Linked DNA regions of Homo sapiens: all the other regions are linked to region 1. The links come from fine-mapping of genetic effects on gene expression. A gene starts in region 1. Each other region holds a variant in brackets. All regions are shown on one strand. Distances are from middle to middle. Region 1 holds the start of ANTXR2 (ANTXR cell adhesion molecule 2). Region 2 holds the start of LOC107986294 (a long non-coding RNA gene). Region 3 has its middle 56 kb from the start of ANTXR2.

Region 1 (10,861 bases):
TGAAGAATAAAAGCTCCCTCCCACTATGGATCCCATTCTTTAAAACATGTCAGTGAGGTGGGGTGTGGTGGCTCACACCTATAATCCCAGAACTTTGGGAGGTCAAGGCAGGCAGATCTCTTGAGGTCAGGAGTTCAAGATCAACCTGGCCAATACAGTGAAACCCCCGTCTCTACTAAAAAAATACAAAAATTGGCCAGGTGTGGTGGCATGTGCCTATAATCCCAGCTACTCGGGAGGCTGAAGCATGAGAATTGCTTGAACCTGGGAGGTGGGGGCTGCAGTGAGCCAAGATAGCACCACTGCACTCCAGCCTGGGCAACAGAGAGAGACTCTGTCTCAAAAAATAAAAATAACATAAAATATATCAATGACTATTTCTAACTTGTCATTGACACTGTTTGAATGACACAGAAATGGTCATATGAAATACTGTGACATTGGTCTGAAAAAGACACCTTTTAAAAAACACTAAGGAGATTAAATAGATAGGTAGATAGATATAGAGATATATTGGTATACATATTGATATATACTAAGTTCCCTTATAAAGGTGAATATATTCAGCATTAATGGACCTCAGAGAAAGACCAGAAATCCAGGATGTCTACTGAATCTAGGAAATTATCCAAAAGGATCCATATCTTTCTCCCCCTCAATGTTCTTCAAATTCCTGGTTGATTAATATATTATATCTAAACAAGAAAAATGTAGAACTACTTACAGTAACAGAGAGGCCGGGGAAGGTAGGAAGTGGTGAATATACAACTAAGACAGGGATCTAGATTTCACTGCACATTCCACAGCCACTATAAATGATATTGATTTTCAGATTAACTGCTCTTTTATATTACTCATACCTCCTTTCCCTTCTATTAGAGAACTGAATTGTCTGTGCATCTGCTTGATTCCACTGAGAGGCCTGAATCACCACTTGGAAATATCAATCATGCCTTTAAAATTCATCTCTACTAAAAGCCTGCAGTGAAATGATAATGCACTAACCTGTCTCCAGTTAATGGCAAAATAATAGTTGCTTGAGAAGAAAACACAATGAAAGATAATCTCATTTCAGGGCTGCAAAATAAGAAAAGAGGCAGTTAAAACATTTTTAAAAAGAAATATTGATACGATACAGATGTATAGTTAGGGAGGTTCATTTAAAATTGGTCTCACTGAATGGTCCAGGCTTCTTTTAAATGACATTCCCTAAGTAAATAGACGAACTCTGCTTAACATTGTTGCATAAGTCATTTTGGATTTAGTCAACGCTTCCCAGCACTCACATACTCCTCCATGACCCATAAGGACTTGCATTTAGAGAGAGACTAACTGGAAAGATAAATTCTAAGCTGATGTAAAATTCTTTCGTAGAAAATTCCTCTTCCCTTGGTTTTCTACAACATTTCCTTTAAAGGTGGCCAGGCCCTTCAAAGTGATTATGGTTATCAACACTTATGGGTGGAGAGTACCCAGTTTGACTTAATGACCATAACTATGATATGAGTCTATAAAAAAGTCATCCTGAAGTAAGACTACTTAAAGAGTCATGGAAAATGTGAAAGAAACAATAAATCACTTTCTGCTTAGGCATTTTTTATTTTCTAAGTCTCAAACATGCTATTTTCCATTGGCAACAAGTGCCCCAGTCAGCTATATCTTTCAAGTTTTAGGCATGTCTCTCACAGAACGGTTCTTGCTTCTCGGACACTCTCTGCAACTACTACTAAGATTCAAAACTGAAGATATGAAACTAGAATCTATAAACTGAAAATCAGAATCCTCTCAAAGGCTTATACATATTTTAAAAGTCAGTCTCTTCATTAGTCACCCCTTATTCACTTCCTACAATGTATTGTTAGTAATTGAGCAACTAGGCTTGAGCCAGACAACTGTGTATTATAGAATTCCAACTTAAAAACCAGATCAATGAGTTAAGATAAGAGCTTGCTTCTTTAAAATGTTGTAGTGATGTGATTCATTGCTTTTGATCAAAATCTACATGACACCCTTTTCACATTGAAGGATTAAATTAGAAAATTTATAAACAACTGTCTGTTCTGCCTTTGACATTTAGGGACATAGGATCTTGTTTGTTTTTCTTTCCTAGACAGTTTTACCTCAGACCCTGTCCAGAAATGAGTGTTAAACTTGGCTTCTTAAGCAAGGGACTGATGATTGAACATGGACAGGCATACATTTTTATAGGGATAACTTTACTGCTGCCAATAACTGAAAGCAAGGATTGCCTAGGCCTCTACAGATTGTTTGAAGTTACTTGCAACATGACTTTCAAAATGTTTTGATCATCCAAGCCTGTTTTACAGAAAACATTTGGGCTAACAAGACTGAAAGAAGCAATATTTAATGATACAGTTCCTATTCATGTCCTTTCCATTATCTTGATAAACTTGTGTTTGCTCATTGCATTTTTTCTTTAAAAAAAAAAGAAGGAAAAAAAAAGCCTCAAAAGCCTAGTGTCCTGAGGTTATTTTTAAATAGGAGATGCCACTAATTCCTAGTTACCTCTAAATAAGAGAGTAAGCTGGATTTCATACCAGTAATGCTTTTTATAGGAGAGGAAACCAGTCTTTCCTGGTGATGCTTATTGCATATATAGAACAGTTAAATTTTAAACCAACCACACACCCACACATTGTGTAAACACAAGTCGTTGCTTTAAACACACACACAAGTGCCTTTTCTGGTAGCGGGTTATTAACACATGTTCATTTGAAGTTTTCCAACACTTTTTGTTTGTTTTAATGAGGGCCTCTATAATGCTAAGAAATGTGTGGAAAGAAAAATATATTATGGATACTATTCGCATAAAATTTATTTTTTTAATGTGATAAATTATGAGAAAGCATAACTGAAATTCAAAACAGATGAAAATTCGGAAAGAAAAAGACATTTGGAATAGTATTTGAAGATGCTTCCCCAGAGTCTGAGCCAAGTTTCTGGGATCCAGATGAAATAAGCCCTCAAGGACTGAAGGGCTGTCCTAATAACAGCATGTGTGCAATACGACCTTGAGGCACTTAAAAGTAACATTTCAGGAAAAGTTTTTCCTATAAAAGGTTTCAGAAAAGGGAAATTCTACACTTTGCTCTACTTCTCCACTGCCTAGAAAAGTAAAGTAAGAAAGATACCTCACAAATCTCTCCGCAAGTTGCTGTACGAAATTATAAATTTCAATCCAGTTATTTGCCACACTCCCAGACCTGAAAGATGAAATTGAACTGATCAGAGAAACAAAACACGGAACTGAAAAGTAAACATTTTGAAATGGTTCCTTCTTCAATGCCACGAACATAGGGGCACCTGGCCTCTTTTTCAAGCTAAGTAAGGGTATCTGTAGCTGAAACTTTGGTGGTACCCAGAGTTAAAGAAGTCAGTCCCAGAGCAAGACTCCGTCAAAAAAAAAAAGAAGAAGAAGAAGTCAGCCCGTTTTCTGGGGTGGGTAAATACCTGCCTAATTGTTTAGAGTGGAACCCAGCTCTTCAGAGTAAACACAAAAGCCTTTCTTCGCAGGAAATGCAAACCACATTGGGCATGTTAACCCTAGGCTTTTCCTGGCTCCAATGAAAGCGCTATGATTAGGATAAAACCAGGCAAACTTTAGCCTGCGTACGAGCAGGGTCGAGGAGGTGGGTAAGGACTCTGTGGCCGATGGAGCGTGGCCCGCAAGAGGCCACACTCCCATTTCCCAAGAGGCCAAAAGACTGGCAAACAGTGAATACCCCAACTCCCCAAAGAGCCAAGTAGCCCGGGGCTCCAATCACTACCCCCGACCCGGCTGATCTCCGCCCACACAGATCCGAACGCGCTTGCCCTTTGAAAGAAGACAGCAACAGGGCACCCCTCCGCGGGTTTCCAACACCACTCCCCGGGGTGCGCACACGCATCTCAGCCTCAGCCCCAGCTGATCCAGTGCCGCCCTCACCAGGAGACCCTGGACCTCCCTCGCACACTCACTTGTCCAGGACGAAGTAGAGATCAAAGGCTCTTCTGCAGGAGGGCTGCTCCTGGGCGCGCAGCAGCCCCCCGGGACCGCTGAGCACCAACAGCCACAGCCCGGGGAACAGCCAGCTCCCGGGGCTGCGGGCCGGGGACCGCTCCGCCACCATCCTGCGGCCGGGGGCCTGAGACTCCCTCCCGCTCGCAGTCCCCTAAGCTCAGGAGGGTCGCAAAGGTGGCGGGAGTCACCCGGCACGCACTCTGGGGTGGGGGGCGGCGAGCAGCTGAGACGCCGGCGCCTGCGGCAGCGGGACCCACCAGCTGACAGGGAGGGAGAGAGGGAGGTCCTGAGAGGACAAAGGGAGTCTCCGCCACCGCCGCAGCTGCCGCCGGAACTCTTGACGAATCCCAGTGGAAGCGCGATCCAGTCCTCCCCCTCCCGATTCCGGAGAGTTCCTGCAGACAATGCGGGCCCACGGCGACAGCTCGCGAAAGGAGTTCCTCTCCGGCCTGGGGCCGAGCCTCCAGCGCCCGCCTCGGACCCGGACCTGGAACCCACCCCGCCTGGAGGGCTGAAGTCCCCCCCGCTGCCGTGCGCTTCGGGACAAGGGGTCCCTGGGACGCGGCGACGGCAGAACAAACTAGGAGTGGAGACTCTTCTCCTCCGGCGGCCCCAACTCCCTCCGCACTCCGAAACTTTCCTCCCGGTGCTGGACTCTGGCACTGCGCTGACAGGCCGTCCCCTTTAGGGGAGGAGGCTAGCTGGCCCTGGGACTCCCGGCTGGAGAGAAGCCACGCCGAGGGCAGGAGCCCGCTCGGGCCGGGTCTGGGCTGCGTGTGTCAGTGTGCGCCTGGGGACGAGGGCGGGGCCCCAGCTGAAGCCTCCGAGCCACACATGCACACTTGTGGGTTCCTGCCGAGTTGAAGATGACTAACGCTTGCCAGATTTGGGAAAGGGAAGAAGGAGTTTAGAAAAACAAAAGTTATCTAGAAACTAAACATACCCGTATGTCCTGCAGGCCTGGCCTATTTTAGCAGCTGTGCTAAAACAGCCCCCATGCGTGGTTCACAAACCCAAGACTAAGGATTCCATGGGAGGTGACGGCCTCCTCACTCCTCACTCCACCCCACCCCTACTACCACAAACACTCTTTATGAACTTCCTCTTTTTCTTCTAAAGAAACCTGCTTAGTTTTTTTTTTTTTTTTCTTTAAAAAAAGCCAAGCCAAGGAAAGGCCGGAGTGGGGAGTGGGAGGGGATAGCAGGCCTCTTTGGGAGTGGAAAGTTGTACCTCAAAATATTTCAGCCCACTGTCATTTCCCTGCAAGCTCCAGTTTTGGAGAATTTCAGCTTTGGGCAAGCTAGGTCTCCTTTGCAAAACTTGTGCAAGCACTCAAGTTTGTGCACAAATCCTCTGTCTACTAGTTCTGCTCTCCCTCCTCTCTCTTCCCCCCACCTCCGTGACTTCCGCCCTCCCTTAGTCAAAACTGGCTTTTAGAACCTAAATACCTTTTCATTTTTAACAAAATCAATGCTTTATGTAGTACTTACATATACATCTCTTCTGTTTGTTGCCATATGTATTTAACTTTTCATTTATTATATTTGATATACAACCAGATATGTCAGCTCTTTGAAGATAAAAATTAGTTACTTTAACAAAGATTCATTGAGTGCCTATTATTTGCTAGGCACTGTTCCAGAAGTGGAGGTTAGTGCACAGAACAAGATAACAAGCCCTTGCTTTCATGAAGCTGACAGTCTGGCTGAAGAGTGAAAACAGACAATAAGAAATAAATACATAAGCAAGGAAAAAAAATGTCCATATTGGAAAGGTGGCCTGTAGAAATTTAAAATATTGTGATGATAAAGAATGACAGACTCAGTGACTAACAAAAAAGACCCAGTCATTCCAAGAGCTCTAAGGGGAAACATTTGGAGTTACTGCAAAGGTCCATAGACATTAGCTTAGCATATTCAAAAAAGAAAAAAAAAAAACTGTGTAGCTGGAGCTTTGCAGGTAAGATGATGTAAGACAAATAGGCAAGGGCCAGATTATGTGATGCTTTGTTTACTGAGATAAGGAATTCAGATATTTAATATTGAGTGTGACAGGAGGTTATTAGAGGGGTTTAAGCCCAGGAGTGGAGTGGCAGATGAATTGATATGATCTGTGTTTTTCAAAGATCATTCTGGCTGCAATGAGACAATGAATTTGGAGTTAGCAACAGTGACAACAGGGAGAGCAGTTAGGAGACTATTGCAGTAGCAACATGTTGACAAACAATCCTGAGGTTCATAAATTTGGAAAGGAGAACTTCATTTCTTATAAAGGGTTACAGCTGCAGGCTGGACATCTTGACAGGCTGGGAAGTGTAGCCTCTGGCAGAGACAAAAAGCAGGCACTTTGAGGGAGGAAAGGGTGGAACAGGAATTTATGCTAAATGAGTTGGCCAAGTATACATATTCAACAGGTTATAGGAGGAACTATGAATATTTCTGAAGCAAGGGGTACATGAACTATGCATATTTCTGAAGCAGGTGGGTTAAGTTTCCACATCAAAGTGAACATGGGACATATGCAACATGCATGTTTAGTAAGCAAACATGAATAGTAAGCAAACATGCAAGTTGCATATGTCTCATGTTCACTTTGAGGTGGAGACTTAACAATTAAATGTATTATAATTAGGCCCTATATGTCAAAAGGTGAAACAGAAGACATGAAGGCACTCAGTGCCACAGCCTCTGTAAACCAGCCAGAACCAGTCTATGGTCAGTGGTCTCTTATCAGGAGAGTTATTAAAATCAGTCTCTTGTCCAGTCAGAGCTGTAGTTATGGCTTGTGGAACAGGGGTAGGGGTGGAGGATTAATTAGTTAGTGTCTTGCAGTCAGTAAGATGCAATTGTTTCAATATTGCTTATCTGGAGGCCAGTGTTTGTTTAGATGCTAGAGAAAAAGAAAACCCTTTTGGCAGTTAGAATATAGTTTATTTTTTAAGTGTAGGAGTGTGTGACTTGACCTTTGCCTGGCATGGTCTTAGGTCTTGTTTATAATTTGGTGTCTTATGAACACAGAGTACATTCTGTCAGTCTTATCATCTCTATTTTAACAAAGGCAAAATAAAATGGTACCTTGGACCATCATCACTATAGCAACTAACCTGAGAATTATGAATGGATGAAAACTTCAATATATACCGGCAGACCTCCATTTTGAAAATATGCTCATTACAAATGTCAAACATTGAATGGAGGGTGGCTAACATCCCTTCTCACTCTTTGCCAACTGGTCACTTGGGGATGGAAATTCCACCACTATCAACTGCATCAATCTGCCACTTTTTACCTGATGGAGTGAGGAAGATACTGAGGGGCAAGGGGCTAGCTAGATGGAAGATAACTTTTACTTTTGTAAGAAGGAAACATACAGCCTTCATAATTTTCAAATAATTAAGCACTAGAAGCAAGTCCTTAATTAGTCCTGAGACTAATTAAGAAAGTCCTTAAAGCACCTTAATTCTGTCCTCCTTGGCTTCATCTTTTCTTGAGGTTCTAAAATACTGATTACTTCTGCAGCCCTCCAGTCTCCAGGTATGTGTTGCCACTTCTCATTTCACATTTTGGTCCAACCTGAATACATAAATCTCCCTGACTTCCCATAAGAGAACTGAAACAGGCTGACATTTTCAGGAAATTTGTATCAACAGCTTGTTCATCTTTCAAGGTTTTGTATTCATTGCTGGTTGAAACTGGTTTCCATTTTCAACTTTAATCTTAAGACAGAATCAAAGATATTATATGCCACATCAGCATGTTATTGAATAAAATCTGGGGAAAAAATGTATCCCCCCAAAAAAGTGACAATTGGTTTCATGTTAGAAGGAGACAGAAGGCAAAGAAATATGAGACATGATACTAACCATGTACTCTGTCCTCCTAAGGAAGTATTTTAAACTCACATTTGTTGGTTTCCTTTATCCCTAGTCTTGACTAATTACCTGCTCATCTTCTGGGACTTCCCAAACTGGTCTAAGAATCCATCTTGTCCTAGGTTCAAACTAAAGCAAAATACCTCAATTTAAAACTCATTCTTCCTCAAAATTTCCAGGCCTTCTGAGAGTACTCCCACTCAGTTCTTCTTTCTTGAGTACAAGGCTGGCAGAGAATATTGACATACCAGAAAAATAGTAGCACTTTTTTGTTTATCTGTTTGCTTGGGTAAAGAATTCATCCCAGTCCTGGAGCATTTTGCATCTCACTGACTTGCTCATGTAAGATCTACAGCAAAGCAAAAAATGGCCTCAGACCAATAACTAATCAAATCACTTTCATTTAATAAAAATTAATCAGAAGATCATTAATTACTGGGGCAGCCAAGTGTCCTAATTTGTCACAGACTGAGGGGTGTCTTCAGTCTCATGGACATGGGACTTTCCATGCTAAAACTAGGGCAGTCCCTGGGATAGTTCCTGGCAAGCAAAACTGTTGGTCATTCTTTTCCTAAGCAATAATGAGGGAAGATGAAAGCAAAAGCAGACATGAAAATCTCTCCAAGCCATGAAAAAGAAGTGGTAGCAACAGCAGTACTTTCCCTTCTTCATCAGTGAGAGCACTCTGGGAATTGTATCAGCTGGAGAATAGCCAGGTAAGGTTTCAAACTGACTTTTGTACCATGACAGTCATGCTGGGACCCTGCTTAACTTTCAATCTGACATCAAGAATGGGAGGGATAATGCAGATTTTTTAAGAGAGAGAGAGAAAAAGAGACTCTATACTGCATTATGTAGGTAAATAAATCTAAAAAAGTCTCTTTTATCAAATTATTTGTATTTCCACTGAATTATTTGGCTTTACAATCCATGAATGCCCCCACTCTTTGAAAATTATTCTTTGTATTAAATCAAACTTCTTAATAAATAAATAAATCAAACTTATTAATAAAAATGCTAATGAACCCCAAAACATGTTAAATTCATTTTAATGCAGTTAGAATAGCTTGAGATTGACACTTGATGATTTAAAGTCTTCACTAGACCCCCCTCTCATTGTCCTTTTTTTCCTACCTGCAGAGCTCCAATGGACTACACGTTAAATTATATTTAATTACTTATTTACTGGTCTTTTATTATACTTAATGAATGTTTACTGATACCTACTATGTATCAGGTAATGTTTTAAGCACAAATGTTAGACTTTCTATTCTCAAGCAGTTTGCGTTTTCAATCTCCTGTCGTGAATTTATTTCCATCACCCCATACCCCAACAAATAAACTAACAGAAAGGCAAATAAGCAACGACAATAAAAGTATTCTTTATGTGTAAAAAATTATATAATCTATATTATTTGCAAGTAGACATCTTTTGTGGCATACACGACTACAGACGTGACTCTCCCGGAAGTTGAGTACCATACTGAAAATGATTCATATTCATGTCACATGGGAAATGATTCATTATATGATATCTACAGTGATTCAGAGGAAGAAAATAAATCTTCACTACCTATAAGTGATAAAGCTTATTTCAACTTTTATCAGGCATAGTCATTAAAGAACTAGATTTCGTCAATGTCTGAACTAGTTCCTGAGAGTGAATACAATGCCTTTGGAAGGTGCAATTGCCTCTAAATTAATATCTCTATGTATGACAATAGGGGGTGCTAACTAATGTTAGAGAATGATTACTAACATTTGCATTTGGGATCAAATGTGTCTCAAATTGAGTTTCTCAGAAACAGACTTGAGATTCAGAAATTTGCATGCAGGAGATATATTGAGGCATGCAGCAAAACCTCAACGAAGGGATGAGGGAAGCAGGAACTGTCAGAGAGAAACTTGAACCATGATGGAATTCCGAAGGAGGCTTCAGGCAACCACCAAAGGTAACTCTGGAGCTGTGATAGCCTTTCATAGTTGTCCTGAATTGAGTGAGACAAGGGAGCCAGTGTTTGTTACCCCTCATGGATCACTCACTAAATGTGGGCTTCCACTCTACAGGGGAAAGGCATAACCTTAAGCAATGGCAGCTTCTTTTGACTTGGGGCAGTTATGAGGAGGGACTCAGTTGTGAGCTGTCAACAGCAAAATCCTGGCTGTGGGGAAATTAGTGTTTCAGCCCTGAAGGAGGAATCTAGGTGATGCAACTACAGCACCTACAACCACAGCATCTAGAATATCCAAAAAAGGCCAAGACACCTGGCAGCTAGTTTGTTGAAAGTCCTATCTCATGTGCAATGTCAGACCTTCACAAAGCAGCTCAGGCTTGGATTGGCATCCTAGAATGATAAAGTCATGTAACTGCATCACTTCTCTCATGCCTTCTATCTTAGCTCTGGTGCAGGTCAGTTTCTCAATTCTCGAAGGAATTGCTCTAACAGTATTCTATTCTTCCTATACCTTCTCCATATTTCAATATAATTAGTCCCCTGAAGCATAAAACCAATCATATTAATCACCTACCTAGTTACTGCAATGGAATGTGGTTTCCTAACAATGGAAGGCCCTCCACAATAGCATTACAACTTAGCTTTGTATCCTCACCTCAACAAGTCTAGTCCCTTCATATACTTGATGCTCCAGAGAAACCTTGCGAGTCACTGTTCCCCTCCTATGCACAAGTATATCTTTTGGATTTACCTCGTTTTGTACTCACATTTCCCTGATACTGTGTTCTAGGTGTCAAATGCTATCTCCTCTTTCTCTTGCCTTCTATTCTCACTGAACAATTCAGGTCAAAAGCCATTAGGTGGGCCAAGCACTGGGTGCTAGGGTGGTGCAGAGCTACAGTAAAGTAGTCCCAGCAATGTGCCGAAAGCCAAGCAGGGCGAGGAGAGTGTCCCCATGGTGCAGGGAAGGACAGCCTGGCATGGAGCATTGGAGACTGAGAAGGGTGAAGAAAG
Region 2 (10,861 bases), 510 kb before region 1:
AGAAGAAACATTTGTCATATAGAATGATTGATGATGGCCTGGATACGGTTTTGGATGAATTGAGAAACTAAATGGAATGACAGAAGGAGAAAAACAGGTATAAAAGGTCTAAGAATTGGGATGACTCAGGATATCTGATTAGAGACTGCCTAAGGAGATTCAGCATAGTCCTGCCAGCAAAGATTATTTATTTAAGAGTTAAGAGTGGCAGTTTGGGGATAGCACCAGGAGATATCAGCTGTGATGGCTTGGAAAAACAGTGTAAACTGGCAGTGTAAACAAGAGCAGGGCATGTATGAGTAGTTGAGAATGGTGAATAGGAGTATGACTAGACAGAAGATAGTAGGGATGACAAGTTTTCTGGGGCACAGTCCAAGTTGGTCTGGTGTCTGGAATGAGACTGGGGCCTAATGAAAAGGAGCGTCTTCTATACAGGAGCTTAAATGGGCTGTACCCTGTAGCATTCTGAGGACAGGCCTGAATTCTGAGAAGGGAAAGTGATAAAAGTATTGTCCAGTCCTTTTTGGTGGCTGAGCTTGGTGAGGTGTGTTTTTAAAAGACCTTCAGTCCATTCTACTTTTCTTGAAGATGGAGGACCGTAAGGGAAATAAAGGTTTCACTGAATACTAAGAGCCTGAAAAACTGCTTGGCTGATTTGACTAATAAAGGCTCATCTGTTATCAGACTGTATAGAGGTGGGAAGGCTAAACTGAGGAATTAAGTCTAACAGAACGGAAGAAATGACTGCGGTGGCCTTCTCAGACCCTGTAGGAAAGGCCTCTACCTATCCAGTGAAAGTATCTACCTAGACTAAGAGGTATTTTAGTTATCTGACTCAGGGCATGTTGAGTAAAGCTAATTTGCCAGTCCTGGGTGGGGCAAATCCTCGAGCTTGATGTGTAGAGAAGGGAAGGGGCCTGAAGAATACCTGAGGAGTAGTAGAATAGCAGATGGAACACTGAGAAGTTATTTCCTTGAGGATAGATTTCTACTATGGAAAGGAAATGAGAGGTTCTAAGAGGCGGGCTAGTGGCTTGTGCTATAGTATAACCTGCCTTTACTGGTGTGTGGCGATTAGGCCTGGGTGGAACCGCCATCAATAAATCAAGCATGATCAGGGTGAGGAACAGAAAAGAAGGAAATTTGGGGAAATGGGGTGAATGTCAGGTGGATCAGAGGGATACAGTCATGGGGGTCAGGTGTGGTATCAGGAATAATGTGGGAGGCCGGATTGAAGTCTGGGCCAGGAACAACGGTAATTGTGGGAGACTCAACAAAGAGTGAGTACAGCTGAAGGAGCCGGGAAGCAGAAAGTATATGCATCAGGTATGAGGAAGAAAATAGATTTTGGAAGTTATGAGAACTGTAGAGAGTGAGTTGAGCATAGTTTGTGATTTTGAGGGCCTCTAAAAGTATTAAAGCAGCGGCAGCCACTGCACGCAGACATGAGGGCTAGGCTAAAACAGTAAGGTCAAGTTTGGACAGAAAGGCTACAGGGTGTGGGCCTGGCTCTTGTGTAAGAATTCTGACCGCGCTAACCATGCCTAGGAAGGAAAGGAGTTGTTGTTTTGTAGAAGGTGCTGGGGTTTGAGGGGTCAGTCAGACACGATTGGCAGGGAGAGCACGTGTGTTTTTATGAGAATTATGCCAAGATAGGTAACAGTTGAGGAAGAAATTTGGGCTTGATTGAAGTAATGGGGGCTGTCTGTGAAGCTTTGCGGCAGTACAGCCTAGGTAATTTGCTGAGCTTGATGGGTGTCAGGGTCAGTCCAAGTGAAAGCGAAGAGAGGCTGGGATTAAGGGTGCAAAGGAATAGTAAAGAAAGCATGTTTGAGATCCAGAACAGAATAATGGGTTGTAGAGGCAGGTATTGAGGATAGGAGAGTATATGGGTTTGGCACCACGGGGTGGATAGGCAAAACAATTTGGTTGATAAGGCGCAGATCCTGAACTAACTTGTAAGGCTTCTCTGGTTTTAGGACAGGTAAAATGGGGGAATTGTAGGGAGAGTTTATAGGCTTTAAAAGGCCATGCTGTAGCAGGCGAGTGATAACAGGCTTTAATCTTTTTAAAGTGTGCTGCGGGATGGGATATTGGCGTTGAGTGGGGTAAGGGTGATTAGGTTTTAATGAGATGGTAAGGGGTGCATGATTGGTCGCCAAGGAGGGAGTAGAGGTATCTTATACTTGTGGGTTAAGGTGGGGGGATACAAGAGGAGAACGCAAAGGAGGCTTTGGATTGGGAAGAAGGGCGGCAATGAGATATAGCTGTAGTCCAGGAATAGTCAGGGAAGCAGGTAATTTAGTTAAAGTGTCTCAGCCTAATAAGAAAACTGGGCAGGTGGGGATAACTAAAAAGGAGTGCTTAAAAGAGTATTGTCTAAGTTGGCACCAGAGTTGGGGAGTTTTAAGAGGTTTAGAAGCCTGGCCATCAATACCCACAACAGTTATGGAGGCAAGGGAAACAGGCCCTTGAAAAGAAGGTAATGTGGAGTGAGTAGCCTCCGTATTGATTAAGAAGGGGATGGGCTTACCTTCCACTGTGAGAGTTACCCGAAGCTTGGCGTCCGTGATGGTCTAGGGGGCTTCCGAGGCTATCGGGCAGTGTCAGTCTTCAGCCGCTAAGCCGAGAAGATCTGAGAAGGAGTCAGTCAGAGAGCCTTGGGCCAGAGTTACAGGGGCTCTGGGAGTGGCTGCCAGGTGAGTTGAACAGTCCGATTTTCGGTGGGGTCCCACAGAGCTGGGACGTGGCTTAGGAAGAATCCCGGGCTGCGGGCATTCCTTGGCCCAGTGGCCAGATTTCTGGCATGTGTAGCAAGCTCCTGTGGGAGGAGGTTCTGGAGGAACGCCTGGCCACTGCGGTTCAGGCGTTTTGAAGTTCTTGTGTGCTGGAGATGTGGCTGGGGTTTGTCTCACAGTGGAGGCAAGGAATTGCAACTTTTTTCTATTATTGTATGCCTGAAGGCGAGGTTAATTAAATCCTGTTGTGGGGTTTGAGGGCCGGAATTTAATTTTTGGAGTTTTATTTAATGTTGGGAGCAGATTGGGTAATAAAATGTATTTTGAGAATAAGACGGCCTTTTGAACTTTTAGGGTCTAGGGCTGTGAAGCGTCTCAGGGTTGCTGCCAAACAAGTCATGAACTGGGCTGGATTTTTATATTTGATGAAAAAGAGCCTAAACGCTTCTGATTTGGGATAAGGAAAAAGGAGCATTAACCTTGACTCTATGCCTTTAGCTCCAGCCACCTTTTTAAGAGTAAATTGCTGGGCAGGAGGGGGAGGGCTAGTCACGGAACGAAACTGTAATCCGGACCAGGTGTGAGGAGGGGAGGTGATAAAAGGATTATAGGGTGGAGGAGCAGAGGCTGAGGAAGAATTGGGACCTAGCTCGGCCTGGCGAGGAGCAGCCTGGGGAGGAAGGGAGAGGTCAGATGGGTCTGTAGAAAAGGAAGATTAGAAAGACTCAACGACGCTTGGGGTTGGTACTGAGGGGACAGGTGGGAGGGAAAGAAGGAAGATTTGGGACGAGTTGCACTGGGCACAGAGACTAGGAAGGGACTGATGTGTAAAAGAATGCCTGGACGTCAGCCACCTCAGACCGTTTGCCTATTTTATGACAAGAATTATTTAGATCTTGCAGGATGGAAAAATTCAAAGTGCCATTTTCTGGCTATTTGGAACTACTGTCGAGTTTGTATTGGGGTCAAGTGGCATTGCAGAAGAAAATAAGGCATTTAAGTTTTAGGTCAGGTGTGAGTTGAAGAGGTTTTAAGTTTTTGAGAACACAGGCCAAGGGAGTAGGAGGAGGAATGGAGGGTGGAAGGTTGCCCATAGTGAAGGAAGCAAGCCTAGAGAAAAGAGAGTAGAGAAACAGAGGGAAGGGGTTCGGGGGATCTTACCTTCCAGAAAAGTGGGGAAAGGGGTTGGGGCACAGAGATAAGAGGTCGGGGCATGGAAATAAGGGATTGGGGTGCAGAGATACGAGGTTGGGGCGTGGAAATAAGGGATTGGGGCACAGAGATAAGAGGTCGGGGTGCGGAAATAAGGGATTGGGGCACAGAGATAAGAGGTTGGGGCGTGGAAATAAGGGATTGGGGGTTCTTGCCCCCTAGAAAAGCAGGACTTGCTGCTAAGGGTGAAGGAGAAGGGGTTGGGGTACTTGCCCCTGCCCCAGGAAAGCGGGACTTGCCACTAAGGGTGAAGGACCAAGGCAGGCGTCCCTGCGTGGTCTGACACCCTTGAAACGTCAGTGTATAATCAGAGAGGCGTCCCTGCAATTATTAAACACCAAGGGAAGGCTGCCTTCCCAGTCCGTGACCAGCGCCGGAGTTTTGGGTCCATGGATAAAACGTGTCTCCTTTGTCTCTATCAGAAAATGAAAGTTATTGAAATTAAGAGAAGAGAGAGATTAAAGAGTGGAAAGGAGAAAGTGGTTGAGGGACAGTGAGAGAGGTTGGAGAAGAGAGTAAGAAGAGGCCGCTTACCTGATTTAAAATTGGTGAGATGTTCCTTGGGCTGGTCAGTCTGAGGACCTGAGGTCATAGGTGGATCTTTCTCACGGAGCAAAGAACAGGAGTACAGGGGATTGAGCTCCCAAGGGAGGTCCCCTGATCCGAGTCACGGCACCAAATTTCATGCGCATCCGTGTGAAGAGACCACCAAACAGGCTTTGTGTGAGCAACATGGCTGTTTATTTCACCTGGGTGCAGGCGGGCTGAGTCTGAAAAGAGAGTCAGTGAAGGGAGATAGGGGTGGGGCCGTTTTATAGGATTTGGGTAGGTAAAGGAAAATTACAGTCAAAGGGGGTTTGTTCTCTGGCAGGCAGGAGTGGGGGTCGCAAGATGCTCAGTGGGGGAGCTTTTTGAGCCAGGATGAGCTAGGAAAAGGACTTTCACAAGGTAATGTCATCACTTAAGGCAAGGACCAGTCATTTACACTTCTTTTGTGGTGGAATGTCATCAGTTAAGGTGGGGCAGGGCATATTCACTTCTTTTGTGATTCTTCAGTTACTTCAGGCCATCAGGGCATATACCGGCAAGTCACAGGGGATGTGATGGCTTGGCTTGGGCTCAGAGGCCTGACTCTCTCTTGATATAAAATATTATAGTATGTTTGTGTGCTGATGGGGGATTTAGTAAAATGAGGGATTTAATGTGATTAGAGAATAATTTATGTCTATTAAAGGAGGAGTTCATCCTAAAGAAAGTCATGGGCTGTACGTGGTGGCTCACGCCTGTAATCCCTGCACTTTGGAAGGCTGAGGCAGGCAGATCACCTGAGGTCAAGAGTTTGAGACTAGCCTGGCCAACATGATGAAACCCCATCTCTACTAAAAATACAAAAAATTAGCTGGGTGTGGTGGCATGCACCTGGAATCCCACCTACTTGGGAGGCTGAGGCAGAAGAATCACTTGAACCTGGGAGG[C/T]GGAGGTTGCAGTGAGCCAAAATCATGCCAGTGCACTCCAACCAGAACAAGAGCGAAACTCCATCTCAAAAAAATAAATAGGTAAATAATAAATAAGTCATGGACAGTTTATTCTTGCTGAGAAGCAACAAGGCAGAGTATATTAGCTGTATTTGGGTTGGTTGGTAAATGTAATGTTGGAAATATACAGAAATGAAGTTTCTCAGAAACGTAAGACACATAATCCTCAATTGAGTTTGAGGGAGTCAGAGAAACTATTACAGGTTTGAGGAGATTAAAGTATGTATGAGGTAATTATCACATTTAGCTGTTGAGATGCAAGATTGAGTAGATTAATCAAGATTGGGATTCTGCCAAGTGGGCACAATAAAGGGAGTAGGCAGGGCAGTTGAGGCTTAATATTATATACAAGAAAGTGATTTTAGTAGTGGGCCATTAATACCAACTAATTAAGGAAGGAAGTAAAAACAAAAGGAGGGATGAGAAATAATAAAAAGTTGGTAAGACAACTAACTAACCCTAGATCCAGTGGGAATGAAGGACTGTATGAGCTAGAATGCGCAAAGGTAGGGGTTGGAATGATAGGGGTGGTGATCACAGAGTGGCAGGTTTGGAACTGAGAGAACGGAAGGGTACATTTCTTGGTATCAAGAAGATATAAGTTGTGTCTATGGGGACATACTGCTGAGGTAGGGTAGGCAACAGACTATTAGAGGGGAGAAGGTCAAGAAGCTAAAAAGGCTTTGTATTTTGAATTCCCTCATATCCTTATTCAGAAGTCATCTTCTTAGTGATACTTTTTCTGACCATTCTTAAAATTTCAAAGCCCCATCACCCCACCCCCAAACATATACATTACATAGCTATGTTTCTTGGTTTATCTTTTTCTTCTTCTCAGCCCTTATCATGATCTGAAATACTATATATTTTTACTTTTTGGTTTTATTTATTATCTATCTCCTCCACTTGAATGCCATTTCCTTAAAAGCAGTGATTTTTTTTTTTGCTTTCCTGCTCTATCTCCCACCTTGAAATTAGGGCCTGACAAATTTGAGGCACTCAACAAATATTTGACTTATAAATGAAGGGACAAGTTATTGAAAAGATTGTTTTTATGAATCTTAAAATAATCAAAGATTGTAGAGCTGCAATATTTAAGAGAAATGACCGTGAATAGGGGACTAAAATTTTTACAGAATGAAGGCAAGTGGACCAAGGTGCTGCAAATCTATTAGGAAGGATAGGAGTGATATATTCTGATTGTATAAGCTTAAAATCCAGGGATTTCAGGGAGTAGGGGAAGACAGTAATCTGAAAGTAGCTATAAGAAGCAAGGAAGACATCTGCCATACCTCCATGGTCATGGTGACAAAAAAAAGTGAAGGAGACAATGCTCTGATGAAAATAATGTCTTAGGGAAAGAGGCAAGTTTCAGATAGAGTCAGAAGGAAAAAAGAACAATAAAAGAAAAAATATATAAGCAAATACAATCATCCCGCAGTATCTATTTTGTGAGAATATTACTATTTTTCCTTCGTAGAGCAATTTAGAAAGCATAAAATGATTTGACTTTTGCAAAAAAATGTAGAAGAGAAAAACAGGACTCAGTGAGGTTTAATTAATTGCCCAATATTCCCTGACTAGAAAATGGTAGGCTCAAGACTTTATGCTCTTTTCATTACATCTAAACCGGGAAGCAGATACAGTAGGTGCTGTGCTAATTTAGGTATAAATATAGTTTCTTGGAAGTCTTGGATTAGGAGGTAGTAAAATTAAATAAAGCATGGTATGATGGTTAATATTGAGTGTCAACTTGATTTAATTGAAGGATGCAAAGTAGTGTTCCTGGGTGTGTCTGTAAGGGTGTTACCAAAGGAGATAAACATTTGAGTCAGTGAACTGGGAGAGGCAGACCCACCCTCAGTGTGGGTGGTCACCATCTAATCATCTGCCATTGTGGCTAGAATAAAGCAGGCAGAAAAATGTGGAAGGAGCTGACTTGCTGAGTCTTCTGGTCTTCATCTTTCACCTACACTGGATGCTTCCTGCCCTCGAACATCAGACTCCAAGTTCTTCAACTTTTGGACTCTTGGAGTTACACCAGTAGTTTGCCAGGGGCTCTCGGGCCTTTGGCCATAGACTGAAGGCTGCACAGTTGGCTTCCCTGCTCTTGAGGTTTGGGACTCGGACTGGCTTCCTTGCTCCTCAGTTTGTAGATGGCCTATCGTGGGACTTCACTTTGTGATTGTGTGAGTCATTTCTTAATAAACTCCCCTTCATATATACATATATCCTATTAATTCTGTTCCCTTAAGAGAACCCTGACTAGTACGCATGGGTTGTGAAGCTGGCTAATATTAAGATGAGTCAAATGGGGAGATTTTTTTCAGGGATAAAATTGCTCTGTGTTTGAAAGTAAAAATTCCAAGTTTTAGACTTTTTTCTTTTTTTTTTCTGGAATGGATTGGTACCTCTCTGGTGTCCCCAGAACACTTGGCTAAAGGTACAGGAGAGTAGGAGCTGCCCAACCTCCTCTTTGTATTTCATCTCTCCTTTCCTAGGGCAGAGGAAAGGGATAGTAATATCACATCTTCACCCCTTACATTCTTCCTTAGAATTTGGACATTTCCCCTCATGCCTAGAAATGCCAAGGATTTACACTCACAGTCCCTTAAAATTAAGATTTTTACCTTTGCCTGTTTATTTACAACATGCTTAGACATTTGCTATAGCATCTCATTAACTAATATATGAGAGGGATATATGTAGAAGTTATTTTTTTTTATTTTGAGTTTCCAATTTTGTTAAAGGGAATAGTTATAATTATTCTATGTACTTATATAAATGTTATATATAATTTTATAGATAATAGGCTTAATTAAACAAGGTTATTTATGCTTTAATGATAGAGTTTTTTCTCTTTTCTGCCCTGCATTGGCTTGTGAAATTATGCAATGTTACCTTCCATGCTTTAAATTTTGCAAACACTGTTCATCTCACAGAATTAGTTAAAGTCTTTCCAGATGTGGATTTGATTAATAGAAGCTTACTAACTGTGGCTAATTACTGATAATGATAGTATCACAAGGCAACTTCCTCTCCAAAGTCACCTTGGTCTTTCTTCATTGCTAGAATAGAAAGAAACCCCACAGCCATACCTCCCCCAATCAAAATGAAAACAGAATAATATTTAAACTTTAATTTGGGTGGTAATTAATACAGCTGATATAATACTAGGCTTTTAGTATAAAACAAATGATCATTTATAGATATGTGAGAACTTCAGCCCTCCAGACTGGTTTCACAGTGTGGATAGATGAGTCACGCTGAACTAGTGTCTGGATATTCAGAGTGATGGGCAATGACCTATTCTTCTTTATCTCCTTTGAACCAGATTTCCATTTTAATTGTTTCTATCACCTAGAAACAGAGGAACAGAACCAGTGTGGTAATGATCCAAGCTGAAATGAATGTGTCTTTCCCTGTCCTACTCATTTTCTAAAGAGGTAAAGCCCTCTAGTATTGTTGACTGTTCCTCCTGGCTTCCCTCTTCCAAAGCCATATACTGCTTCTCAGTAAAGTGCCATCAAAAGTGAATTTCTCTAAAGATATGAAAATAGACAATAATTAATTGAATAACAACTTGGAGATGCCTTATTTATCGTCTATTAGAATAGATAACAAAACAATATAGACAAAGACAATAAGATTTAAAAAGAAGTTGAGTTAATATCCCACACTGCCTCTTGTACAGATTTTTTAATATAGCAGAAATTCATGCATATGTGTAAGAGTCCATTGGTCAAATTGCATTCTGACCAAGTGGACGTATGAGAAAGCATTAAAAATCATGGTCATCCAATTCTTCTTTGTCTGTTTGAGTCATTTCAATCAGTCTAAGAAATGTTTTGTATTATGAAATTATGAAAATGTAAGAAATAGTGTTCAAGTTTCTTTTGATACACTGGAATGGAAAACAGAATGACTATCTGCAGAAGAGCTAGAGAAACAAGGCAGTGGAAGATCTTGGAAGAGTGAGTGCTTTGCAATAAACAGAGATGATCTTTAAAAACAATATATAAATCCTGTATTTGTGCCCATTTTGTGATGATTTCTTTTGTAAGGATATTATGATTATTAAGAAGCAAAAGATGATGATGCCAACATCTTGAAACAAATCATTTAATTTGGACAGATTCTATATTATATCTTGCTATTCATATAGCTTATAACATTCATTCAGTTTATTTTAGTAAAGTGATCTTGTAGATTTGCATATGGGGTGCTATAGAGGAGGTTCTGGAAGGGCAAAGAGAAGAAGGAATGTTTTGGGTTTATCAGAGTGCTAAGCTGTAAGAATAGCACCAATGAATTGAGCAAAAAGCAAACATGGGCGACAAGCCACATATTTTATACTTTATTCTTGTAAAATTGACAGCAGTAATGCTGATATTAGTAAATACCAACATTAGATTGCAGAAGTATAAAATTGTTAATTGAGTTTCACAAAATTCAGAGCATTATATTATGAAATATTTATGTTGTAGAGTGTAACCTATATATTTTAAGCCTCATCATCCTAAAAGTATAATACAAGAAACAATTTTTAAAATACATATGATTATGGCATTACTCCCCTTTAAGCTTTATTGCCAGAAATTAGATTGCCAATATATGCCCAGTTATCTGGGGGTTAGGGAGATTTCCCAGTGTGCTTATTCATGGAAACTCTTTATATTGGGTTCTCTTGCCTTTTATTGCTGTGTTTTGCTGCTGCCTTTGCTATGGCCTACTATTAATAGATTTCTATTACTGGGTACAACAGTTCTTCACTGATAGCTATTGCTGGAATTTCCAATATGGTCTTAGGGAAAGGAGACAGCTCTTTCACTAGTTATTCTCCCTAAAACATGGTATAGGTGCTTTTAGATTTTCCATAGCACAAAATAGATCATGCTGTAACTTTAAACAAGACTCAGGGATGATGGATGTGAAGTGTGGTGTAGAGAAACTTTCATCACCTATTAAAAGTGGCCATACTTAAAGCAACTATTTTCCATAGGGGAAACACCCACACAGACTTTGATGTCCCCAGAGGAACTATTACTGGAGTCTTGAAATACATTTTTTGAAGTGTGGATTATTTATTTTTAACTAATTACCTTGGGTAACGTATCGCCCATCCATTTCAGATTGCACGGCATTTATCCTTGACTAGTTTCTTTCCAGACAGAGTCTACACGACCCTTCTGCAGTCTTTTCCAACGAGGCATTACAACTAGGAAAGACCTACTTGCAGAACACATTCTATCATGCAAGGTCATCCAATTATTTATGGAGTCAGAACAGTCTAAATTCAGATTTCAAAGAGACATTCCTCCATAACGAAGGGTATACACTGTTAGTTTGTGAGCCATATCCACTCAGCAGACATAT
Region 3 (10,861 bases), 56 kb after region 1:
TATAATGATAAAGGGGTCAATTCAGCAAGAGAAATTATAACAATTATAAGTATATATTCACCCAACACCAGAGCTCCCAGGTATATACAGCAAGTATTAAAAGATCTAAAGGGAAAGATAGAATGCAATACAAAAATAGTAAGGGACTTTTACACCACACTGTCAGTAATGGGAACATCATCCAGACAGAAAATCAACGAAGAACCAGTGGAACTATACTGCACAATAGGTCTAATAGACCCAAGTGATATTTACATAATATTTTGCTCAACTGCTGAAAAAAATACATTCTTTCCACTAGTGCATGGAACATTCTTCACAGTAGACTATATCTTAAGCCACAAGACAAGTCTGAACAAATTCAAAATAATAGAAATCATATCAAGCATCTTTACTACCACAATAGAATAAAACTAGAAATTAATAACAAGAGAAACCTTGGAAAATGCACAAACATGTACAAATTAAACAACATGCTCTGCATTGATCAATGGATCAATGAAGAAATTAAGAATGAAACAAATGAAAATGAAAATACAACATATCAAAATCTATGAGGCACAGCAAAAGCAGTATTAAGAGAGAAGTTTAAAGCAATAAACACCTATATCATAAAAGGAGAAATAAACAACCTAAAAACACATCTCAAGGAACTAGAAAAGCAAGAACAAACCAAACCCAAAATTAGTAGAAAGAAAGAAATAATGAGGACCAGAGTAGAAATAAGTAAAACTGAGACAAAAAAAATACAGAATATCAACAAAACAAAATGTTGTTTTTTTGTAAAGATTAAAAATTCAACAAATGTTTAGTTACACAAAGAAAAAGAGAGAAGATCCAAATAAATATATAAAAACACAAACAAAAAAGGAGAGATAACAACTGAGACCTCAGACATACAAAGAATAATTCAAGACTAGTGTGAGCAACTAACTATATGCCAACAAATTGGAAAACCTAGAAGAAATGGATAAATTCCTAAACACATAAAACCTACCAAGATTGAAATATGAAGCAAGAGAAAACCTCAACAAGCCAGCAATGAGTAGTAGAATAAAAGCCATAAGTCTCCCATCCAAGAAAAGCTGAGGACCTGATGGCTTACTGCTGAACTCTACCAAACATTTGAATAATGAATCAAACTCTCAAAAAAATTAAAGAGGAGGGAATACTTTCATAAATTCATTCTATGTAGCTAGCATTACCCTGATAACAAAGCCAGATAATGACTCAACAGAAAAAGAAACTTACAGGTCACTGTCACTGATAACCATAGAGGCAAAAATTCTCAGAAAGTCTTTTCTTGAAGGAAGATCTGCATAGCTCATCTCTGTGTCCAGTACAATGTCCCTGCCTTTCTTCTCCTCAAAGCACTTTTCACTTTTCCTTCATTTCTCTATAACTTGAAACTTGTTTTTGTGTATTTATCTGTTCAATTGCTGGCTTCTCCACCAGATGGCAAACTTCATGAGAGCAGAGGTTACATTTATTTCATTTTCTACTATATACCCAGCACCTAGCACCATGGCTGGCACGTTACAAGAACATGAATGTTTGATGAACAAATGAATAAATGTTGCTGACATCTGAGGATAATTTGCCTTGAAGGTATTTGTAACCGGGATCCTGAGTGGTCAACAGATGCAAACCACTGCATATGACCCAAGCCTCTACAAGATTCGGAAAATTCTGCTTTTCCCTGCCAGGGGTATTGCTTTTTCAACTAACAGGCCTTAGTCTAGCCTGTGAAGTCTGGTTTCAGACCCTTGTGGTCTGACCTATCTTGTTTCTATCTCCAGCTTAGAATAAAATAGTGCCTTCAGCTTCTAATCCTCCTGAGTCTTTGAGAATCTAATTTCCTTTCATCTGCGGCACTAGGTAAAGTCATGAAGAGCTAATTTGGGTGAAGTCCTGGTGACATCATAACCACATCTACTATCAGCTACTGTTTCCTGCCCCCCAAAAAATCTGAATTTTCTTCTCTCTAGGCTTTGAAGCTTGTATATTTCCAACATCTCTTTTCCCCAAAAACTATTTTCATGCTGTGTTATACTGGGTTTTATTGCCCACCCTCCAGCTGAGCAGTCCTCCTGACTCTTAGCTTGCAGTTCTCATTCAGGAATTTCTGCTACCCACTCATGGGGCAGAAAGGAGGGGAGAACAGCCATTAAGGCTATCAAATATTACAAAATTGAAGACCCCACTGCTGGAATTTTAACAGCTGCTCTCCATACTGTCTCCTAATCTAAGCTTGACCATGTGGTTCTCAATAACAATTTAGGGAGGAGGGGTTCAGATCATCTAGACTATAATTATTAAACGGGGACAAAAAATTGAAGACCCCAACAATGATCAATTTGGTAACTTTACAGAGGACTAGCCTCACCCCAGTCATCATTAGGAGTTTCTTTTCAGTCTGCTCAGTAATGTGGTTGAGGAAAAGGATCCCCGGGCCTGGGTTCAAAGCCCAGCTCTGTCATATATTAGCTACATAATGTTGGGCAATTTGCTTAACTTTCCATGCCAACATCTTCATAAATATAAGGAGGTAAAATAAAAGCATCCACATATGAAGTGCTTGGAGTGATTAATAAAGTAATGTATACAAGTTGCCTAACAAAGTTTCTGGCACAGAAACAGAAGAAACACATAAAAATGTTATTGACTATTGTTATTTTTTGTGTCATCACTCTTTTCTTTTGTTCAATTGTCACTCTCTCTCACCTTCCTTCCTCCTCCTTTCTAGTCGCTCTGTCTCATTCTTTCTCTGAGTTTTTCTATAAATGAGGAGAAAAAAGAGCCTTATCTACTCATGCCTTCACTAAGAAATTAGTCATTTATTAATAATGAGAGGCAATATTGCAAAGTGGTTGGTCTGGTAGACTCTGGAGCCTGATGTCTTGTTTAATATTGTATCTGCCACATCCTTTCCTGTGTATTCTTGGGCAAGATACTTAACTTCTCAGTTTTCCTATCTGGAAAATACAGATAATATTTGTGTCTGCTTCACAGAGTTATTTTTAAGATAAAATGATTTATATAAAGTACCTAGTGCATAAGACTTCTGGATAAATATTAACTTTATTTCTTACAGCTTATTTTTATTTTAAAAGAAGGAAAAGAATTACTAAAAATAATAAATAAATAAATACTAAAAAAAAAAAAAAAAAAAAAAAAAAAAAAAAAAAAAACTCCGGCATGAACAAGGGAGCTATCAGGGATCAGATAGCCTCTCCCTGTTATACATCAAACCTCCAAGTTACTGTGTCTACTGAAGACCTTACTTTAATAACTTTCCCAACAGTCAACTCTCTTTCAACTAACTTTTCTCTTCTCTCTTGGGAGATTTCCCCTGGGTTGCCTGTTAGTGACTCACTTCCTACTGGCAGTCTTGTTCACACTTTAAACTTCCTGACAGTTAGTGAATCACCTCTGTATCCTGCCTTGTTATGTATTTATTTTTGCTTCTCCTTACCTGCCCCTACCCCCACCCCACACCAGCCACCTAATTCTCCTGGAGAAATCAAACAGTGAAGAGAAAAGACATTAGGGGCCAGAACATTGGATATCCATTGAAACTCAATGCCTTAAATACCTTTGGATGAAGCTTCAACTCAAATGTTGGTAAAATGTCTCCTCCCTCATTTCTCTTAATGTTAGAACCTACAATCTCTCAATTCTAACCTGTTATTTTCTTCAAAGCCTCCAATTAAAACCTCAGGTACAAACACTTGTATTTGTTTAGTGAAATATTTTTTACATGAAGAAGACTTTGGAAGATGAAATTCTAGACAGAAGAGGTAGTGTGATGAGAAAGAAAGAGAGGATGAGAAGGGGAGGATGAACAGCAACGGATACCCGCAAAATGAATGGGGATGGTGATAGTACAGGTAAAGAGAGAGGATGAGCAAGAAAGAGAATTTGGAGAGACTGATGAAAAAAACAGAAAATGAAAAATAAAAACTGAAGAAAGTAGAATATAATTAGCCTGGTGATTAAGAGTACTGGTTTTAGAGTTAGAGTAACTGTTCACATTACAGCTTTAATACTCACTAGCCATGTAACCCAGAGCAAGGTAGTTAACGTTTCAGTACCTCAGTTTTCCTATCTTTAAAATGGGAATAATAGTAGTACCTACCTCAG[G/GGTTGTT]GTTGTTGTGATTAATGAGCTAATGCATGGAAAATGTTGTGAACAATGTCTAGAACATAACAAGTGCTCAATAAATGTAGCAGTGGTTATTATTAGTAGGAATATTTATTCTTATAACTAAGGTCATCAGAGCAATTATTGTTTTCTTAAATTATCAGTATTTATAGCTATGACAACTTCTGAATGTCTACATTTCCAAATAATTAGAAAAACTTTTACTAGAGATGCCCAATATATTTGTCAGTGATATTAAATATTACTATCTCACTAAGAATGTGCTAAAGAAAATTCAGCAAAACAAATTATTTACAATTTGCACAAATGTGCTACAAACATCCAGAAGAAAAATTCAACTGCATTTTTGTACTGTATTTAATGTATCTATTTTAGAATATCGAGGCACTTTCCTAGAGCCAGGACATCCTGTTTTAAAATACTAGGGTCAGCGGGGAGAGAAGACTCAAAAGTCTATGTGTTAAATGTGTTTCCATACATTTCGCAGGGAACTGACCCCAAATCCCAGCATGTGTGTATAACTGCCTCAGATACCTGAAAGTAAACAAAACGGATAACTAGTCCTGCCTATTGAACCAACATTAAAGCTCTGATCAAAAAGATCTTCTCATCAGATGTTCATATATTCAAAAGTTTACTGCATCCCATAATGTGTTGACATGTTTACTGTGATTTGCTAAGAAGCAGGAGAGACTTTTTTCCACTTAACAGGAGGCTTCTTCAATCAGGCTCCTAAAGGGTTTTAGCAGTTCAAGCAGGTGAGTGACAAATGTGATTACAATCAACAGGAAATAGGAGCTAGATCTTCTGCATATTCTCCTACCCACCCCTCCCCTATAAAATATCTCACATTAAACTGCCAACATGATGAACTTCAGAAAATATTCACAGCCCAGTGACACTCACATAGTCAAGCTGCTATTAACAACTACTCAGACACCTAATATTGCCTTGTTTTGTGTGAACTGAAGACTGATGAACCTGAGTTATTTCCTTTTCACTGTTATCTGATACTATCATTTTATAGTAGTTGGAGCAGAAAAGGAAAATTGGTCTCGAGGAAATGGAAGACAATGTTTATGATATTATAGTAAAAGAAATGAAATACAGTTTACAGACCCTGTTTTTGCCACTAATCATGCCTTTGCCAATTAAAAAATGAAAACAATGGTGTTTTACACGTAGTACTTTCCACTAACTTTTCACACATATAACCTCTTATAATCTTCTCAATGATCTTGAGAAGACTTATTCTCTAAGATTAACCTCTTGAAATATCTTAGGGCTAAATTTCCTGACCTATGAACAAAACGTCTAAAATCTTGAGGAAAGAATGTTTATAGCAAGATAGCCTTTTTCAAGCCTAGTAACTGTGTTAACGTTTTTTTTTTCTTCTCTCCCTAGAAGAAGTGTGAAGCTCAGGCAACGAAAGTAAGATTTTCTAAAATGCACTTTTTATTGTTTTTCTATAAATTATTTACTTATTTCTCAAGTTTGTTCTAATTGAAAAGTTAACTTTGCTAATTCAAGGTGGCTCAGTCCCTTTCAGATATATCTGAATCTGTTTTGGTTTAAAACTCTGTTTCATGTTTTTCCTCTTTCTCCTCCCCTTAAGGATAATCTAAATTCTAGGAGTCTTACTTTTTGTCTCCAGGATCAGAACTGGAATGTCTATAAGGTATGACATCATCCTCCATCCACACTGGCCAAAGTTGAGTGTTTTGTTCATTCAGGCTTTGGGTACCATTCTGTCCCTTGATGCTTGCCCTGGCTTGGACAGTGTATCCTGTCATACACCAGCCTACATTTAGCCCTTGCTTCTAGAGTACCTGGGGGCTCTGAGAGGTTGTCTTTGGACCTATGATCAGACACCTCCTTCAGTAATGGTCCATTGTCACTCAGGCATGATATTGGACTTGGGACGTCTTTTACTTTGCAGTTTGGGAGCTGCACCCTCTGAAGCTCCATCTGCTATGGATCCCCATACACTTAGCCAGGCTTTCTTTTGTCCTCCCTATGAGGTTTACACTACACACAATGGAAGTAAGCAGGAACTTTTCTGGCACCCATTAAAGCCCTAGTAGGGCCTTCTCAGATTTTTCTTTTGCCACCAGCTGATCAGACTTTCATCTCCTTTAAGTGACCAAAAAAGACCCTGATCCTATATCATCCTGCATTTTTGTCAACTCTATGATGCACAGGATAAATTACATATCCTGTGTCCTCTTGATGTTCAAAATCTACCTCTTGAAATTTTAAGGAAAAATATATTGTCTCTCAAGAAGGCTCATGTAAATCAAAAGCACTGGCTTTTCGACCGCTAACAGTTTCTGGTGTAGAGTAGTAATAGTCTATTTAGTCTACTCTTAGAGTCAGTAATATATAATGATTAGGCACTTGGTTTCAAGGGCCAGAATGCCCAGGTTCAAATCTCAGTGTAAATGTATACTAGCTATTTGACGTTACATAAATCAACCTGTATAGTTTCTTCGTCTGGAAAAAAGAGCATAATAAAGTTTCTGTCTCAAAGGGTTGTTGTGATTAAATAAGCTAAGCACTTAGTACAGTGTCTGGAATATATATAGTGTTTAGGACTGTATGTGGCATATAGTAAGCAGTTTTTTTACTATTAAAATTATCAAAATTATTGTTACTTCAGAACTGAAATAGTCAAGAATTTGACTTAGGTCTTGCTGAGATCTCTTGTGTTTCTCATCTTAAGGCAATAGTCTGCAACCTAAATAGGGAAATATTTAAAGATATAATTCTGCTATAAAGAATTAAATCTAGTAGCTTTCTAACTACTGTGTACCAACCACTTAGACTGTATTGAACACAAACAAGTTGTTATGATGGCTAAAATGGACCCAGTAAAGAATAGCAGTTTACACCTTTTTCAAGTGTATTTAGATTTATCTAAATTTAGATTCAATAAATCTAAAAATAATATCTCATAATTGTATGTACTCTGTGAGGCCTTTCTTGATGAGTACCCTCTGCCTTCCCATAGATTCGCAATACTCCTCCTCCACCATCCCCATATAAAACTAAATGTGATTTCTCTACTTTGAAGTCTCATAACTCTGTTTCTATCTCTTATGTGTACTTTCACTAAATATCAATTACTGTAATTTTTATACTTGTTCACTCTCCCAATTTGGATTGCTGGCAACAATTCCTTTTTCTTTACTGACAGTGTCTGCTGTAATGCTTCATACTAAGAAGGTTACAAATAAATGCTGTTGAAACATCTCTATGAAATGAAGCTAAGTAGTAAACTAAGTAGTAAAGTAAAAATTATAAGAAACACTGAATGAGATAAATGCAATGAATCATAGTAGTTAACAGTATAGACTTTATGTAAAGCTGCAACAGGTTTCAATCCTAGCTCTGTTATGCTGTGACCTTGTACAAAAGTCTGCACAGTCTTTTCATCTTAAGCTGGGGACATTTAAAATCATATGACAGGATAGTTGTGTGAGTTAAGATTATGTGCAAAGTACTCAGCACAGCATTTGGCATATGGTAGCCATCAATTAATAGTAGCTATTAAGCCTGAGGAGGTGATACCAAAAACTTTGTATGTACCTCAGAGTTTTGGCTATATGGGTATTCTGATTAAAACTATTCAATTAGAAAGTTAGAGCCTGTAGTAGGCTGAAAAATGGCCCACTAATATATCCACATCCTAATCCGCAGAACCTGTGACTATTACCTTATGTGCCAAAAGGGACTTTGTAGATGTGATTTAAGTTAAGGATCTTGAGATAAGGGAATGTCCTGGATTATCTTGGCAGGCTTAAGGTAATCACAGGGATTCTTCCCCAAAAGAAGGAGTTCGGAGATTAAAGAGAGAGTAGGAAATGTGAAGACAGAAGCAACATGCTGTAGTGATCGTGAGCCAAGACATGCAGGTAGCCATTAGAAACTTAAAAAGACAAGAAAATGGATTCTCTCCTCAGAGCCTCCATAAGGAGCAAGCCCTAAGATTAATTTTGTACTTCTGACTTTCAGGACTGTAAGATAATTAATACCAGTTGTTTAAAAGCACTAAATTTATGGTAATTTGTCATAATGGCAACAAGAAAATGAATCCAGAGATTATGAAATAAAAATCAAGGTATTACTACTTTGAAAAGTAATTTGATAATTTATTATAAAGTTAAACATACATTTACTCTATGACCAAGCAATTCCACTTCTAAGTACATTCCCAAGAGAAATGGACACAGAGTCTTACACACAGTTATTCATGGCAGCTTTATTCATAATAAACCCAAACTGGTAAGAACCTATATGTCCATCTGAAGGTGAATGGATAAGCAAATAACAATGCATTCATTCAATGGAATGCTACAGAGTTGCAATAAGAAGAAACTACTAATACAATAACATGGATAAATCTAAAATATTTTGCTGGCTGAAGGCAGAAACAAAAGCATACGTACTGTGTCATCTCACTTTTACATGTTCTAGGCAAGGCAAAATTAATCTATAGCAATAGAAATCAGATCAGTGGTTGCCTCTGGGTATGGGGGCATTGGCTGTAAGGAACAGAAGGTAGGGTGAAGGAAACATTTTACATTTTGATTGTGGTGGTGGATATATGGGTGTGTAAATGTAATAAAACTCATTAAATTGTCCTGACAAACCAATGGCTGTATTCAAGACCTTAAAAATGTTGAGAACGTTAGTCTAAACTAGAGCCTTAAATCCATATGGATTCCAAATATTTCATTCCAATTTCCACAAAGTAGCCTGGGAAATTGCCTGAACAAATACATATCTAATAAATTACAAGTAGTAGAATTTAAAAACTTATGCTATGCAAAATATGTAAAGCATAAAAGAGTTGCTTTCTTTTTTTTTTTTTTTTTTGAGACAACAACAAAAAAACAGACAGCCTGTTCTGTCGCTTAGGCTGGAATGCAGTGGCATGATCTCTGCTCACCGTAACCTCCACCTCCTGTGGTTCAAGTGATTCTCATGCCTCAGCTTCCCAAGTAGCTGGGATTACAGGCGCATGCCACCATGCCTGACTAAGTTTTGTATTTTCGATAGAGACAGGGTTCCACCATGTTGGCCCGGCTGGTCTTGAACTTCTGGCCTCAAGCCATCCGCCGGCCTCAGCCTCCCAAAATGCTGAGATTACAGATGTGAGTCACCGCACCTGGCAAGAGTTGTGATTTTTTTAAAGTATTCTTTTTGGGGGGTTCATGTCTCTTTGAAGAAGACATATGTGTTAGATTGAACTACATGAAATTATCCTGTGTAGGTTAAAAAAATCAAATATCAGCGATTTTGTATGATTTGATTTAAAGAGAAGTCAATTTTTCGACTAGCTTCATTTCTTAGTCAAGTACTAAAACATAACTAAAATATTGACATTTTTCTTACAAGGTAAAAAATTATATCTTTGAGTGAATATCCCCTTATAATGTATACTTTAGAAATTAGAATAGAATGATTGTTATTGTTTTATCCTGTCAATTGCATTTCAAAGATAGTATATATTTTTTAATGTATTTTTTTCATACAAAATGCTGTCGGTTTAAAACACCCTGCATATATTTACATTCCAAATCAGTGTCACTTTCATCATGTGTTACCATAGAAGAATGTTTCTTCTGTAGTGAATTTTAAAAAAGAGCAAAAACAGGGTATTCTTAAGCAGGCAGACTTTGACAAGCTGCTCTGCAAAGCTTAAGCGCATGTTTTTGATTAATTCAGGTATCTATAATTATCTAAAAAGCAATCTAGAGAAAACCAATTTCAATCCAATTCAGGTCATTCCATGCTTCTAGTCTCAGGTTAAAATAGTGGTCTTGGTATGTTTGGAAACTGCTGTCTTAGGAGTGACATGGGGCAGTAGAGATAAGATGAGAACCTATTGTAATCATAAAATAAAAAGGTCAAGGCATATACCTGTGCTATCTACTTCTATTTGGTGGTAGCAGCCATAATTGACCTGGAGTGAGGAGAGTTCTGGGGGAAACCTGTAACACTTATGTCTCCTTTCTTGCTTTTCTTTCTATTGGATTAAAAATAGAGGAGATTAGACAAACTATTTTAGTCCTTTGGAAATATACCTACTGAAAGCATAGTTCTAGGAATCTTTTTTCTTTGACCAGAAGGTGCTTAAGTGAGTTTTGGATTCAGAAACAAAAAACAGAAGTTCTGTAAAAGAATAATACAAAGTAATTTATCTTATTAAGATAGGAGATTTGGGTCCTGGGAGAAGTGTCTAATAAATTCCACTTTTCATTATAGAATACTACCCGAACTGCTGAAAATAAAGCAAAGAGAGGTGGTACCACCACCAGAATATATATTTTTCCCCTAGATAATTAGGAAGTATCCAAAACACATTACCTTCCATTCTTAAACTTAGAAAATAATATATATGATATTAATATTCTGCTTTTAATTTTTTTCTGAAAAGTCCTCCCTTTGGATGCTGTAGAAGGTGTTTCATAAAATTTTTAGTGTTTCCCTCCAGAGCAATCAATTCCTTTCTCTTGTCAAACCACTCCTGATCTACTTTTTCCCAAGATCTAATTGTCCTTCCTTTCTCAGTAAGTCCAAACTTCCATATCCACTAAAATTGCAAATTAACAAAGGATATAATTCTTAAGTGTGTTTTTATATTTTTGCTGGTATAGCCAAGTCCACATATAATTCAGTGACTGAAAATAACTATGTT

The links. PIP is the estimated chance that this variant, and not a neighbour inherited with it, causes the effect.
Region 2: its variant is the best candidate, but not a certain one, in a credible set for the expression of ANTXR2 in whole blood (TOPMed, PIP 0.70).
Region 3: its variant is the best candidate, but not a certain one, in a credible set for the expression of ANTXR2 in whole blood (TOPMed, PIP 0.82).

Annotation. Positions count from the first base shown.
Region 1 is chr4:80,068,431-80,079,291 of GRCh38, forward strand. It overlaps ANTXR2 (ANTXR cell adhesion molecule 2), which reads right to left and starts at 4,799. Exons shown (of 17, transcript NM_058172.6): 1 at 3,979-4,799; 2 at 3,153-3,224; 3 at 1,006-1,077. The coding sequence starts at 4,130. RefSeq lists a silencer at 4,089-4,248 and enhancers at 4,429-4,538, 4,869-5,148, 7,919-9,118.
Region 2 is chr4:79,554,628-79,565,488 of GRCh38, forward strand. The region is part of intron 3 of LINC00989 (long intergenic non-protein coding RNA 989); the gene reads left to right. LOC107986294 (a long non-coding RNA gene) reads left to right here and starts at 7,528. Exons shown (of 7, transcript XR_007058155.1): 1 at 7,528-7,674. RefSeq lists enhancers at 3,904-4,901, 4,902-5,897. The variant C/T (reference allele first, on the strand shown) is at 5,426.
Region 3 is chr4:80,124,135-80,134,995 of GRCh38, forward strand. No RefSeq gene overlaps it. Among named protein-coding and RNA genes, the nearest start is that of ANTXR2, 56 kb to the left of the region's middle. RefSeq lists a cis regulatory region at 3,331-3,468. The variant G/GGTTGTT (reference allele first, on the strand shown) is at 4,144.